Linked DNA regions of Homo sapiens: region 2 is linked to region 1. A link means that fine-mapping ties the variant in region 1 to the expression of a gene that starts in the linked region. Tissue or cell type: whole blood. Region 1 holds a variant in brackets; the other region holds the start of a gene. All regions are shown on one strand. Distances are from middle to middle.

Region 1 (8,111 bases):
CACAGAAAATCTCCTTACTGAAAAGGTGTAGGGCACAACATTCCTTTAAAAAATTCCACATGAAAAATATTCCTCACTTTTCATTGAAATACCACAGTTTGAGTGCTTCTTCTGTGCCAGGCTGTGTTCTAGGTGCTTGGATTGCATCAATGGACAGAACAGAAAAAACCACCTTCCTCTATGGTGTTTTCATTCTCCTAGAATGTTCAAATAGAACAGTGAGGAAGCATACTACATAGTCCTAGTAATAAGCCTAGTAACAAGGTGAATAGACCAATGGAACAGAACTGATGTTAAGAATAGCATTTTACTCAGGATTAAGAAACTGACTCAAAACCACTCAACTACATGGAAACTGAACAACCTGCTCCTGAATGACTACTGCGTACATAAAGAAATGAAGGCAGAAATAAAGATGTTCTTTGAAACCAACGAGAACAAAGACACAACATACCAGAATCTCTGGGACACATTTAAAGCAGTGTGTAGAGGGAAATTTATAGCACTAAATACCCACAAGAGAAAGCAGGAAAGATCTAAAATTGACACCCTAACATCACAATTAAAAGAACTAGAGAAGCAAGAGCAAACACATTCAAAAGCTAGCAGAAGGCAAGAAATAACTAAGATCAGAGCAGAACTGAAGGAGATAGAGACACAAAAAACTCTTCAAAAAATTAATGAATCCAGGAGCTGGTTTTCTGAAAAGATCAACAAAATTGATAGACTGCTAGCAAGACTAATAAAGAAGAAAAGAGAGAAGAATCAAATAGAAGCAATAAAAAATGATAAAGGGAATATCACCACCAATCCCACAGAAATACAAACTACCATCAGAAAATACTATAAACACCTCTACACAAATAAACTAGAAAATCTAGAAGAAATGGATAAATTCCTGGACACATGCACCCTCCCAAGACTAAACCAGGAAGAAGTTGAATCCCTGAATAGACCAATAACAGGCTCTGAAATTGAGGCAATAATTAATAGCCTACCAACCAAATGGCTCTCATGGGGTGAATAAGCTTTAACATATTGAAACGAGGGGAGTTTTCCCTTATCCCCCTTGCAGGGTGCGTGATGGGGGTGTGGCTCACTTCTTTGGTGCCCCGCAGCTCAAACCCCTAAGGGAAGCATGCAGACGGGCAGGTCATGGGGAGCGTGGGCTCCGACTCCATGGCAGCATCTAGGGTTGAGTGTTTACAGCTCCCGAAGCCCAAATGGGTGTATGTTACAATGTGCTCTTTCAGCTTAGCCGTCCGCAGGCACCTTGCTTTAATGAGCTCAGTTAGACCCTCTACCTTATCGCAAGGACAGAGGGCTTTCTGTATCCCAGGGTTCTTGCCCAAGTGTCCCAGAAAAATCAGATCATATGTGGGCTTGGAGAGTGAGTGCAAGGTTTTATTGAGTGGTGATAGTAGTTATCAACAGATGGACAGGGAGCCAGAACGGGGATGGAGTGGGAAGGTGGTCTTCTCTGGAGTAGGGCTGCTCAGCAGCCTGGCTCTCCTCCAACCACCCTCAGCTGAATTTCCTTTGGTATCTGCTTTGTTCTGCCATCGATGGTCTGCCAGCAACTGTTGGTGTGTTCTTCTGCCAGTGTGTTCCTCTTGACATCCAGCCACTTGTGTGTGTATACCCACTAGGGTATCAGGGTTTTTATAGGCACAGGAGGAGGGGCATGGCTGGCTTGGAAATGCAACATTTGGCATGAAAACAGGAGTGCCTGTCCTCACCTGGGTTTGTGGGCAAAGGCCGAGGGTGGAACCTCGCCAGGGACCCTGCCCTTCTCTACTTAGCACTTCCCTGCCCCTCTCCCATATCAATATGTTGATGGAATTATTTAAAAAATTGTTCTCTAGGCTAGTGTGAGAATCCTGAAACTGTTCTGAATATCAGTCTGAAGATGCAAATGATAGACAGTTAATGCTTGTAAGGCCCATAGCTATGGAGATGTGGTTGACCCTAATCATGAATTTTGCACATTCATTCTCGAAAGCCCACCTGAGAATGGTGACAGTGGCACATAAGAGAAAAAAGGAGGAAAAGAACAATAAAAAGGGCAAAGACAAAGATACCTATTATGTATTTAGGGGCTCAGAAAACAATACCCCAAAACAATACCTCAGAAGCAAAAGTTTTTCTCTGACTTCCTTTCCTGTCTCTCAGTCCTATCTTCCTTTGAGGCTAGCTGTACAAACAAGAATCCCTCCCCAAGGTGGGTCATAGAAACCAGACACCCCTCTTGCCACAGCCAGCCTTAAAACCTAAAAGTGTTACTCTAACTCTCCTTCCACTCTATCTGTGTAAAACTGGTCATAAAGAAATCATCTGAGCTATCTTGTTTGACTGTAGGTCATAAGATGCCCATTCCAGAGATGGTCCTGTCCTACAACCAAAATGAAGGAATGCAGCACAGAGAGGCCAAGAAAAACCTAGACAGACGGGTCTTGCTCGGTTCTAACTAAGCCTATTAGCATAGATTATATCCAGTCATATTTCTACAGGGCTGTCCTTACTTCGTTGAACCTAAGCATACAAATGGATACTTTCCCCTATATTTTTTGGGTCTTCATTCTGAAGGCCCTCATGTCTATGTGTTGAATAATTTGTATGCCTTTTCTCAATTAATCTGACTTTTACAAGTTGACTTTTCAGCGAAACTTCAGAGGGCAAAAGGGAAGCTATACCCTTGGCCCCTGCAATGTTCTTTTTTTTTTTTTTTTTTTTTTTTTTGAGACGGAGTCTCACTCTGTCGCCAGGCTGGAGTGCAGTGGTATGATCTTGGCTCCTCGACTCACTGCAACCTCTGCCTCCCGAGTTCAAGTGATTCTCCTGCTCCAGCCTCCTGAACTGGGACTACAGGTGCATGCCACTACGCTCAGCTAATTTTTTGTATTTTTGGTAGAGACGGGGTTTCACCATGTTGGCCAGAATGGTCTCGATCTCTTGACCTCGTGATACGTCCGCCTCAGCCTCCCAAAGTGCTGGATTACAGGCATGAGCCACCGTGCCCGGCCCTGGGCCCCTGCAACATTCTTGCCATTCTTGTAAAGACTCTTGGAAGCTCCAATAAATTCGAATCCCATCTCTTAGTGATAGTCATTCAATTCCTCAAACATAGACATATTTACAGGCAACTGTGATTCTTTAGTCTGTAATAAACTTGGAGAGAGGTCAGATAACTGTCTTTTAAACTGGGGTTTAGAAGACACTGGGATTGTGTGTAACCACAACAGGTGCCTTGCTAATCCTCTCTAGTACAGTCTCCCAAAGGTGTCTTTATCTCCAATATGACATCCTGGCCATTTTATAGGTTTGCATTTTATATCTATAAAGTTTGCTTCATCCTATGCCCTCCTTTGCACTACCACTGATCTTAGCCTATTAAAATTGCAATGATTTCTATCTCCCAACAGCAGCTGATCTGCACTATTGCCCAGTAATTTCTCGAAATCAGAAGGACTTAATTCCACTTTCCTGATCCTCAGAAATCATTATATTCTTCAAGTTCCCATCCCATTTCTGTCACATTTGTCCATAAGATAATCCCATTTGTAGCGTCTCTAAGACCTAAGACTGATTGAATTTAACAAAACAATTTGTTCCAATAATTTGCCGTAATTAGGAGAGCTAAGTGAATTTTATGAGTTCTCCTTCTTTTTTTAAAAAAATTGAATACTATTAACACTTTCTGTTAAAAAGGGCTTAGTATAAAAGGGTTTCTTAAAACTGGCCTGGGACCAATATGTGTTTGTCTGTTTTTTATTTCTCCAGATCACGCTTTACTTCCTCAGTGAAAATGCCATAGTTCCTTTTTTTGTTCACGTTTTCCCTTTTTTCCCATAGAAGTTTCTGGTGCCTATTATTACAAATGTTAACAAACTCTTAGAAATATCTAGAAATCAAACAAAGCTGCATTAAATCTAAGAGACTTCACAATCATGTTACTTTCCCTCCCAAGGTAGACAAAAATGCATTTTCCCTTTGTTTATTCCACCAGGGAAAACTCAGAAAAAAAAATCTTATTAAATTATAGGTTCTATAGCCTTAATTCTTTATAGCTCTGCTCACTATCCACAGCATAGAAGAGCTTCTTTTACTCACATATCTTCCTGGAAGGTATGTGAGTCATTCCTGTGACATTATGTGGATTCTCCATGTCAAGGAGGGTCTGTTTATTTTGAACTGGCAGTTCTGGAAGTATGTACACATGGCAAAGTCACACATCTGATTACCGTACGTTATTGTATGTGTAGTGAAAAACTAGGAAGCCAATATTTAGTTAATGGCTAAAGAATCTATCTGGGCTAAAGTGACTACTAGAGACCTGGGTAGACACACAGAGATGAGCAGAACCCCCATGCCCCTCAAAACCACATAAAATACACAAATATATATGCAAACAAAACAATCCCCACAAACAAAACCCAATACAAATAATACTCTGCTGACAAAATTCTTGAGTGAGTCATTGTTTACACAGCTGTTAATTGTACAAGCTAGAAACCGAATCCGGTTCTCCATACTTTAAACTCATATTGTGCCAATCACGAAGGCTTCACAAAAACAAACTGAGACGTTCCTAGTCCTGGCAAAGGTAATATTTCCTAGGTAAACCTTTGGCTTCCCCGATAATTGGATTTGAAGGTAATTGTCTA[T/C]GTCTGTGTTACACTGATGTCCAGCATCACCATAAGACATGTTGATGCAGTTACAAATTAAAGCATTTATGAGACCTTGAGAATCCAAGCTGATGAAATGCTCTCACCCTGGCCTTCATGAAATAGCTCATGTTTGCAATGCTGATACATATTCCATTATTTACTAATCTTGCTTCCCTGAGGTATTAATAGTTCTGCTGAGTATTGACAATAAATGGTAGAGAACAGGTACTATGGACCCCTGTAGGCAACACAGCATATAAGAAACAATGTTGGTCTTGGACTTATAAACTCTAAGTCTGAATCATAAATCTGGGTGAGTCACTATGGCTTTCTGTAGATTAATTTCTTCACCCATTAAATACTAGAAATCAATAAAACCAGGAGATTTTTAAGGTAATCCCAGCTATAGCATTAAACAAATGGTGCATTCTAAATGGTGGGGAAAGGTGACTGAGGTAATTATTAGTGAAAACAATTTTAACCTCACTTTTAATATTAGAATAACTTGAAGTTTATTTGCTCATTTGTACAATTACATTATTTCTAAAAATACCTAGATTAGTATATCAATTTGAGATTGCATTCCTTAATGCCAAAGCTTCACCAGTTAGAAATGCAGGCTTTTTCAAGAAGTCTAGGGAAACTGTCTAGAGCTAATTAACAAGACCTACGATATTGTAACCGCTCAGTGGGTTCTCTCTGCCCAGTTCCTAGACAGAGCCAGTTTATCAAGACAGGGGAATTGCCATAGAGAGAGTTTAATTCATGCACAGCTGACTCTATGGGAGACCCTCTAGACTTTTATTATTACTCAAATCAGTCTCCCCAAAGATTCAGGGATTAGGTTTTTTAAGGATAATTTGGTGAGTAAGGGGCCAGTGAGTTGGGAGTGCTGATTGCTTGGGTCGAAGATAAAATCACAGGGAATCAAAGCTGCCCTCTTGCACTTAGTCAGTTTCTGAGTGGGGGCCACAGGACCCAGATGAGCCAGTTTATTAATGTGGGTGGTACCAGCTGATCCATCAATTGCAGGGTCTGCAAAATATCCGAAGCACTGATCTTAGGTTTTACAATAGTGATGTTATCCCCAGGAGCGACTGGGGAGGGTGAGAACTTCGCAGCCTCCAGCTATATGACTCCTAAACCATAATTTCTAATTGTGTGGCTAATTGGTTACTCCTACAAAGGCAGTCTAGACCCCAGGCAGGAAGGGGTCTTGTTTTGGAAAGGAGATATTGTCTTTGTTTCAAACTGTAAATTAAGTTCCTCCCAAAGTTAGTTTGGCCTAGGCCCAGGAATGAACAAGGATGGCTTGGAGGTTAGAAGCAAGGTGAAGTTGGTTAGGTCAGATCTCTTTCACTGTAATAATGCTCTCAGCCAGAATTTTGCAATGGCCATTTCAGTATCATCAGTGTTTTCAGATTCTCAGGTTTTTGTGCTCAGTTCTCCATAAGGTGAGCTTTCATCTCCATGGGAGCTGTATGGTAACAAGTTGGATAATCCATTGTCAGCTTTCTATTTGCCTTTTCTTTTGAAAGACTATGAAGAACAAGAAGGAAAAGAAGGACGGTGGTGAGAGGAGAGCAGTAGAAGGGAGAGGAAGGGCTATGCCTAAATAAGAAATTAGCCCATTCCCACAAATTCCAGCAAAATTCTTCTTAGGTCTCATTAGCGAGAGCTATGTCACACTGCCATTTTTATATACAAAGAAGGCTGGGAAATATCATCTCTTAATTGTGCAGAGTCCCACTTCTCAATAAAGTAATCATTCTTTTATAAGAAAAATGGGGAGATCAGATAATAAAAAGACAAATTATGTTGACTATTATATTACTCTGTTTTCACACTGCTCTAAAGAAATACCTGAGACTGTGTAATTTATAAAGGAAAGAGGTTTAATTGACCCATAGTTCCACGTGGCTGGGGAAGCCTCAGGAAATTTACAACACAATCATGGCGGAAGGCAAAGGGGAAGCAAGGGACTTCTTCACATGGTGGCAGGAGACAGTGTGTGAGAGTGCAGGAAAAACTACTGCTTAGAAAACCATCAGATCTTATGAGAATTCACTCATGATCACAAGAATGGGCATAGGGGAAACTGTCCCCATAATCTAATCACCTCCCACTAGGTCTCTCCCTAAACACTTGGGGATTACAATTCAAGATGAGATTTGGATGGGGACACCATGCCTAACCATGTCAACTATCGACATTGAATTTGCAAGATAATTTCTATTGGAGTGTGTGGATTTATCTTGGTGAACAGGATTCCTTGCATATTTCAGATAACCCAATTGTGAACTTACTCAAAGATTTATCTGAAAATATTTGTTCTTAGAGCTCCCAAGATGGTGGTGGGCTGCTCCAAAGATGGCAGCAAGCCTTTTGTTCTCTGACCTGGGGTTCTTGGCCTCACGGATTCCAAGGAATGGAAGCTTGGGCCATGCTGTGAGTGTTATAGCTCTATTGGAAGCCGTGGATGACGGAAGAGAACTGTGGAACCTGGTGACTAGTGTTCAGCCTGATTAGGACGAACCCGGGCACTTAGCCGTGCAGGAACAATAGCGAGCCTTTAGGGGCAATGGGCGCCTCGCTGGATCAGGAGCGCAGGGGACACCCTGCCAGATCCGGAGGGGTAGAAGTCAGCGGTGGTTCTGCGACGGCGGCAAACTGCAGTGGTGGACGCAAGCGATAGCTCTGCTCCAGCCAGAACAAACACGGACCAGAAGAGCAATCAGTTGCAAGATTTAATAGAATGAAAACAGAGCTCCCTTACAAGGGAGGGGACTCAAAGGGGGTTGCCGCTCCCTGCTCGAATGCCTGGGTTTATATCCCGATCATTGTCCCTCCCACTGTGCTCTCAGGCAATATATGATTTGACTATTTCTTTACTTCCTGCTGTTAGCCTAATTTGTATTTTAGTGAGCCCTCTTTACTACCTGATTGGTCGTGTATGAGCTGAGTTACAAGACCTGTGTTTAAAGGTGGGTACCGTCACCTTCTCCAGCTAGGCTTAGGAATTCTTAGTTGGCCTAGGAAATCCAGCTAGTCCTGTCTCTCAAAATGATACCTTTATGACTTGAACAAATTTCTAAGTATTTTCTTAAACCAGATGGTAGCAGAGAATGGGAATGAAACAACTTTGCCATCTTTTTGTTGATATTACTAAAACGCATTTGGAAACATTTTATTTTTCATTTTTACACATACACACACTCCTATATCATATAAAATTTTAGTGGCATTTAGAAAACAAAATGTATTGCTCAAGTTTTTTCTTTAATTTTGGTTAGCAACTAATTTTGAGTATAAAAGGAAAATATTTTTAGGAAACAAATCAAAACTGAATGTTTTTTCTCACTGCAGCTGATTCAGTTGACCGAAACTGGTAAGTGATTATAAACAACAGGACTTGTTTTAAACAACTCACTTTCCCAGCCTAAA
Region 2 (8,111 bases), 25 kb before region 1:
TTTCCAATAAACAACTCTTTTAGTTTACTTGACCAGGGAAATGGGAACAAGTGTAAGAATGTCTGTCAGGCAAACAGTGGCACTGGCAAATAGGAATGATCTGAACTGCAACTTTGATGCATACAGATTTTCCTGAAAGGTAACTTTATTACTAAAGGCTTCATACATAAAGATGATATAAAACAAATAGAAGATTTTAAATTTTATGTAGTTTAAGTGGCTTACCAGAAGTTTTGATTTCTTATCGGTTACTGTGAGGTATCCTGTAAGAATAAACTGTTAAGAAGACAAGAGACAAAAGTTAACAGGTGATGTGTTTGACCACCTTGCAGTATAATTTCCCTTGGATTTGCAAAATATCTGTTTGTGAATCTCCAAGACCATCCCGTTTTTCCACCTGAGCATCAGGGAGTAGGGAAGGTAGGCGTAGGTAGGGTAGGAAGAAACTTTGTGCTGGATTTGCTCAGCACTGAACAAGCGCTCTCTGCCAGGGCCAACTGGGACAGGCAGGCTCCTCTAAGATCCAGAGGACCAGATGTTTGATCCGGCTGGGGCTCCAAAAAGAGATTCCTGAGCTCTGGGCCTTGAAGAGAAGAGGAGGAGCTGTGCCTGTTCTGAGCAGGTGAAGGGAGACTTTCTCAAGGAAGACCCCTCTAAAGGCTGATATGGGGACTGATATCTAGTGTAGTTATCAGAGTCCCTCATTTCCCATGATCGTAGAGCCTAGTACCACCTCAGGAAAATGAGAACTCTGTCACTCCATGTGGAGTCCCTTACTTTTTTAATGTTCTGGGGATGGGAACCTTCTCTGTGGGAACTGGCCTTGGACCTTGGGGACATCTGGGTCTTAGAGTCCAAGGATCTGCAGCTGACTTGCAGAGATCAGAAAGTTACCTTTGATACCTCCCTCCGCTTCACTCCCCACATTGGATTGCCAAGTCCTGTCACTTCTACCTCCGAGTCACTCTCAAGGCTCTCCATCTCTAGCTCCATTGCCACCAAGCTAGTTCGGGAAACTCTTTCCTCATCTGTGTGTTTGTAGCCTCCTCTCATTGGATTCTCCTAGGTTTACTGTTATAATTGAATTAATTTCTCACTCTAAAAACACAATGATACTTCAACAAGTCTTCAAGTGTCACTATCCTCTTTAAAAACGTTCAGTGGCTTTCCCATGCTTTCACATTGAAGTTCCATTTTCTTAACATGACTATAGGGGTTGGCACGACCTGGTTACACCCTACCTTTATAGCCTCATTTTATGCCATCACGATAGATTCATTGGTCTTCTTTTGGTTACTCTTTCCCACATCAAGCCCTTGGCTCATGCTTTATCTTTGCCAGGGATGCTTTCCTTCCACTTCGCCTAGTGAGCAGCTACGCAGAAAGCACTTGCCTGACCTCCATGGTCAGGTGAGTCCTCTATTAAACCCTCACATCGCACCTGGAACTCTCCTCTTAGAGCACTTAGCACAAGTGTAGGAACAAATATTTGGGGTTACTTTTGACTTTTTCATGTCTAGTCTCCCAGTTAGATGACAAACTGTCTAAATCTAAGAACAATTCACCACTTCTCTCAGAGAGGAGCTGTTTTCCAGTATTCTCAGTCTCAGCACCTAGGATGCCATTGAAGACGCGGTATGTGCTCAGTAAATATCTTTTAAGTGAAAAGTAGAGTTTTCAAAAGCAGCATGCCAGAATCTCATTTTAATTCACACATGCAGAGTACACAAAGTCACACTGGGACAATTCTGTTGTGAAATGAGAAAGTGAGGGGTTGGTCTGTTTGATTTTCTACAGTATGGCATGTATAGTTTGAAAATCATATTGAATATTACATTATTTATATTGGGAAAATGAAAACACTGCTGGTTGTTTCTGAAATGCACATTATAGAAAAGGCATGGAGTATTTCTGTTTATCAAAAGAGACTGTGGATTTTTAATAGTCAGAGATAGTGGCCTAATTTATTAATTATTTCACCTATTTGTTGATTGATTGATTGATTGATTCATTCGTTCGTTCATGCACACTATGCCTCAAGCATGATTCTAGGTTCTCAGAATATAACAACTAAAACAGACAGTAACACTGCTGTCTTCTCAGGAGTGTATGTTATAGTAGGAGAAGCTCTAATGAGTCTGTCCTTAAATATTATGGCACAAAATTAGGAATCCAGGCTGTGGGGATTGGATAGAAATAGCACTGTATTAAGAATAATATTTATGGCTATATGATTATCTAGATGAGTGCCACTCATAAAGTTGTCTCTGGGGCTAAGAAGGAGGATGAGTGATAATAATTTTAAAATTCTTTTTAAGCTTTCAGAGTCTGTGATTCCATGAGTGCTAGCTAGGCTAGATATGTTTAAGTTATTCTCTACTTTTGAGCTCAGTTTCCTTATTTGCAAAGGAATAAGTAGGATATTTGTGCATCTAGTCTCCCAGGTTGGTATTGAGGAGCAAATGTCTTACTATACACACAAGGGCTTTGGAAACAAATTTTAAGCACCTGAGAGTAGTTATTACAATGATGATGGTAGTGCAGTGACCAAATGGAGTTGCTTCTTTTGCCGTGAAGGGAGCTGCCTTTTTTGGTCTCCTGGAGGGCCATATTTATGGAATTCATTACCCTAGGACGTGAAGCAGTTCAAATCTATCTTTATAGCAATTTCTCCAAAGCTTCTAATCGACAGTACTCACAATAAGTGCTCCCCAGAATGGATATCCTGTGAGGACAACAAGGGGAAGTCTTTGGGAGAAACCGATGTAATTAAGTGCAAATATAGTTCCAAAGCCCACAATGATTAGAGCAAGCAGGATCTGGGTAGCCTGTGAGGAGAGAAATGGGTACATGAGGTTACAAGTATCCAAGACCCTGTGGGCTACCCCACGTCCCTCAGGGTGTGCCTCCATGGCACACCTTTCCCTCCATCCAAATGCCTTCCTCTCTCATTTGTCAATCATTCTCAGATTGTTAAGAGACTCAGTTCAATGTGTTTCCTTCCCACTTTGCTTGCCTGGATCCTTCAGGTTCAAATCCTTCACTTTTATTCTTTATTATTTTCTATCTTCCCTGGTGTTACCAATTAATCTTATATCAGACAGATTTGAGTACATGTCTGACTACCCCCAGATTATAAGCTTCTTGAGCACAGGGACTATAAACTATTCACCTTTACATTTGTTTTTTCGTCTGTCTCACCAGTATCCTATTATTATCCTAACAGCCCCCACCCCCACATTTTCCAGCACTCAGTATAGGCTTTTGGAATTGGGGCTCATCCCAGTTGTCTAAAAATTTAAAAAGTTTGATGACATAGAGTGGAGAACCTGGGATGAGCTTGCATTTCACCTCCCCTTCATCCATGGACCCAACTAGGGATGAGAATAGCCCAGTGGGCCTATCAGCTTGTAGGAATCTGCAGGGAAAAGAATAGCAGCAGTGGTTCTCAGGGCGCAACTTCTCTGGCAGTCTAGATTTTGTCCCCAGGCCACATCTCTGGGCTGTGGCACACCAAGTAATGATTTTTGCTGTTGTACAAAGGATGGAGGCTGTGCATACAGCTCTCCCCTGGGTGCATTTGTGATGAAAAACGTTTTGCATGCCTTATCATTTGGTTCACTGTGGAGCTTTGAATATGGGTTTTGAAGCACTCCCAATTCCTTTAAGAGCATGAAGGGGAAGTCAAACCTCTCCACTTATGGTTTCTTAGCTTCAAGGGAGGTGCCACCACACCCTGAAGTCACTTCCTCAATGAGATATTTTAAAAAGTTATACTAGTTTCTTGCTTCCCCCTCTGCTGGGATTCAAAGATCAGTACTAATTTCTCATGTAAGGTGAAGGGGGAAAAGTAGAATTAACTCCCTCCCTGAAAATAATCTCTGCATATCTCTGCAGACATACATGAATAAATAAACTTCTTTTCTCCCCTTCTGGAAGACCTATTGACTGGAGAGGACTTACCCCCAAGACTCTTGGCTCTCCCTTCAGAAAATCCAGCAGAGAGCTATGAGGTCTGTAGGGAAATGCAGTCAATACAGTTTCGTTTGGTTTTATAGTGATGACGTGAGTTGCCCTTCTGTCCTGGGATGTTGACTCCATGATTCTATGGCAGAACTCTAGTAAGGGAAAGAGTGAGCAAACATTGCCGCCCAAATCATGATCTACCTCTCCACCAGAGTCACATGGAGCCCTCAGAGATGAGCCCTTAGTGATGACTCTACTCAGTAGTAGAATCTCAGAATCATAGTTGAGTCACAGAGTTTTAGAATTCTAGAGCATGCTCAGCCCCCCATCTTCCTGGTGAAAAGTACTGTATCCAGAAGACTTACTCTCTTGTCAATTTGCTTACAAACATATGGTAAACAAAGAATAGATGGTATATACGAAACAAGTCCTTACACATATGTTCATGAGTTATAAAGGAACTAAAACTTATGGAATATTCCTTATGTTCTGGGAACTGTGTAGAAGGTGTTGACATGCACTAACATTTATTCTTTTAACAGTTCTACAATACTGAAACTGAGGAACAGCAAGGTTATGTCACCCAAAGACATACAGGACAGGGAAGGGGCAAACTCAACTTGACCTGTCTCCAAAATCTATGTTTTTTAAACTCAGCCACGCTTCTGCCCTCCTTTGAAAGGAGTTTCTTTTACTTGATGAATTTTCTAACTTACTGTTTAACCATATTTCTCTGTATTATAAAAATCAGTAGATAACTTTGAATTTCGATTTTTTTCCATCTTTATTGAGGTATATTTGACAAATAAAAATTATATATATTTAGGGTGTACTACATGTTTTGATATACATATACATTCCAAAATGATTACCACAATCCAGCTAATTAACATATCCATCACCTCACGTAGTTATCTTTTTTCTTTTTTTGTAGTGAGAACATTTAAGAACATTTAACAATTCTTTGCATTTTCAAATTAAACAAAAAAAAATCAGTAGTAAAGATGCTATAGGACCAGATGGAGTTGCCCCTTTATAACAGAGAATATTTTAGCTTTCATAAAGTTAAGCAAAATCTAATGATAGTCAAATCCTTCCTGGTTTGAACTACACAAATACTAATTAAAACAACAGAAACTGCCTTTAGAAATTTTGCTTCCCATATTGATCCTTTATATTCCTAAATTTATTACAATTTTAACTATGAGATCATGAAGGTAAATTGTTTCATAAAACTAAAACCAATGTATACACATAATAACTTGAGTATTTCCTGGTTTGTAGCGACCATCGATAGCAGGGTATCTCAAAATGAGCACTGATGACATTTGGACTCAATAATTCTTTGTTGTAGAAAGTTATAAGATATATATATTTTAAACTATGCTACTCCTCATTTATTTAGGAAACCTCATATGCATAGAGAGTGCAAAGTTAAACTGCAGCCACACTGGAATTTCCATAATTGCCCAAGAAATCGAGTTTAATGCAGAGGCTCACACAGAACATATTACACAAAGAACAGACAAGATAATTGCAGCAATGACTGGGAAGAAAGAATACGCCCATGTGGTACAAAGTGCAGGGGTGATGATCTGAATTACAAAACTGTGCTATAGATCAAAATAGAGCTAATACCCAAACAAAGAAATAGACATTATTCTTTTCAGCATGAGCAGCATTTAGCTCCAAGCTAGAAGCAGAAAACATGCCAGTCAGAGATTATCTGTAACTTGTTAAGACTAAGATGTCTTCATTGACTCCTACCCTGAAATGACAGAAGAGAACATAGTTTATGTGCCAACGACTGAATATTCTTTTTTATTTTATTTTATTCATTTATTTAAAATAAATGAATTCAAAGACTATATATAGTCTATTTTTATTTTTATTTATTTTTTTATTTATTTTGAGATGGAGTTTTGTTCTTGTAGGCCGGGCTGGAATGCAGTGGTGCAGTCTCCGCTCACTGCAACCTCCCCTTCCCGGGTTCAAGTGATTCTTCTGCCTCAGCCTCCCAAGTAGCTGGAACTACAGGTGCGCACCACCATGCCTGGCTAATTTTTTGTATTTTTAGTAGAGACAGGGTTTCACCTTGTTGGCCAGGCTGGTCTCAAACTCCTGACCTCGGGTGATCCGTCCACCTCGGCCTACCAAAGTGCTGGGATTACAGGAGTGAGCCACCGCGCCCAGCCAAGAAGGCCATTTTTAAACAATAGAATGAGCACCACTGGTTGGTGCCACAGGATTGCAGAGATTTGGATTTACATGGTAAGATTCATGGGAGGCAGGGACATGCTTGCTGTGTGTTGAGAGGTAATCCTAAGCACTTGAGAAGATCTCTTTGCTGTCTTCCACCTAATGGCTCATGAAAAAGGGCCCAGTAGATCTGTTTCTCAGAGAGTGTCCAGGGCAGAGTAGTTTAATTATATATAGTCTTTAATTTTTAATTAAAGTTTTCTTACAATCCCTAATATGTAATATTTAAGCAATATGAGTGTGAAAATAATACAGAAACAGCCTGCAGAGTCACGCAACTTACCAAATTCACACTAGCATGAGTGCACATTTTCCCTTCTGTGTATCACCTTCTGCTCAGTTTACCCAAAGCAGTTTATAAAGTTTATGACCATTTTGGAAGACTGGCTGATAACATTTATTGACTTGGGCTTTGAGGAAATTATTTTCAAGAGAAATTAAATAACGACTCATAGTAAACAAATACAAAACAAAAGCTTTTTTTTTTTTAGTTTGTTTCACAGTATCTAAAATGGCAGAGATTTCAGGAAAGTCTAATCACACTTGACCATGAGTGTTGAGTTGCTTTTCCTTCCTCTGAGGCCAAGAGTTACTTATATCCAAGACCGTGAAGAACTCTTTTTGACCTGTTGGATATGATCTTGTGACTGGGTCGAGGAAAATGAACTCTAGAAAATACATAATTGGTTAGAATTTTTAAACTTTGATTTCGGAGATTAAAAAAGATAACTCATAATACCTTTTCCCCAAGTTTTGTGTAGTACTAGTTCTTCCAACTTTGCCATAATATGTAATTGCAGCAATATTAATTAAAAATAATGCAATTCTCCAGTCTGCTAATTATTTTACTATTTTAAATAGGATCATAGTTAAATCATAATTCATCCAAATTCTATAAACATTTCTTTTGTTGTTGTAGCCTTTAGGGGAAATGAAAATATTTTAAAATTATAACATCAAGAGCTAAGGGGATGTAAGGAAGAGCACAGGGAAGCATAAACAGGACAGAGACATTCTAGTAAAGTCTCATCACATTAACAAGGAAACTTGGCTAGGGAGACTCTCTCGGGAGGCAGGTAGCTGTGTTCCCGATAAAAGTGAGGGGATACGCGTTCTCATTCTCAGCCCAATAGTCTGTGTCATTCATTTTCTATGTAATTTTATCCAAGCCGTGGTTCTTTCATGAGGGGTTGGGCTATGTGATTTCTAAAACCAACTAGCTTCATATTAAGCAATTCTCTAACTGGTCTGCTTCCCAGTAGACACCAGCTGATCCCAGATGACCAGAGTGTCCTCCAGAAGGAGCCCATTTATACAAACTCTTTTTTTTTTTTGAGACTGAGTCTCACTCTGTCACCCAGGCTGCAGTGCAGTGGTGTGATCTCAGCTCACTGCAACCTCCACTTCCTGGGTTCAAGCAATTCTCCTGCCTCAGCCTCCCAACTAGCTGGGACTACAGGCGTGTGCCACTGCACCTGGCTAGTTTTTCATATTTTTAGTAGAGATGGGGTTTCACTGTTAAACTCATTTTTTTAATTATAAAAGTGGCCTTCCACATGCACCTCATGAACAATAATTGATTCTTCTTTTTGCCACTTTTTGAGGTTGGATTATTGTAGCCTGGACCTGAGACACAGCAGGTATCAGGCGACATGTCAGCATACTCACCCCAGGGTTGTTGGAGTAGAGCTGTTTCCACCAAAAGACAGAACTGTATGCAGCTAATAAGAGCTCCAGCACAGTGAAGATGAGCATCACCACTAGGACACCCTGCAAATCAGGACATGAATGGCTGGTACCCAAGACAAGCTAGCCCTTGTGCCTGGCTAAGAGGAGACAGGGCGATGAGGCTCCAGCAATGCAGAGAAAAGGAGACAGGGAAAATT

The links. PIP is the estimated chance that this variant, and not a neighbour inherited with it, causes the effect.
Region 2: MS4A14 starts here. The variant in region 1 is fine-mapped to the expression of MS4A14 in whole blood (INTERVAL, PIP above 0.99).

What each region holds. Positions count from the first base shown.
Region 1 is chr11:60,367,282-60,375,392 of GRCh38, reverse strand. No RefSeq gene overlaps it. Among named protein-coding and RNA genes, the nearest start is that of MS4A7, 7.2 kb to the left of the region's middle. RefSeq lists an enhancer at 7,280-7,786. The variant T/C (reference allele first, on the strand shown) is at 4,665.
Region 2 is chr11:60,392,569-60,400,679 of GRCh38, reverse strand. It overlaps MS4A14 (membrane spanning 4-domains A14), which reads right to left and starts at 4,221. Exons shown (of 5, transcript NM_032597.5): 1 at 3,964-4,221; 2 at 2,700-2,828; 3 at 226-276. The coding sequence starts at 4,101. MS4A7 (membrane spanning 4-domains A7) reads right to left here. Exons shown (of 7, transcript NM_021201.5): 6 at 7,894-7,995; 7 at 4,732-6,893. The coding sequence ends at 6,819.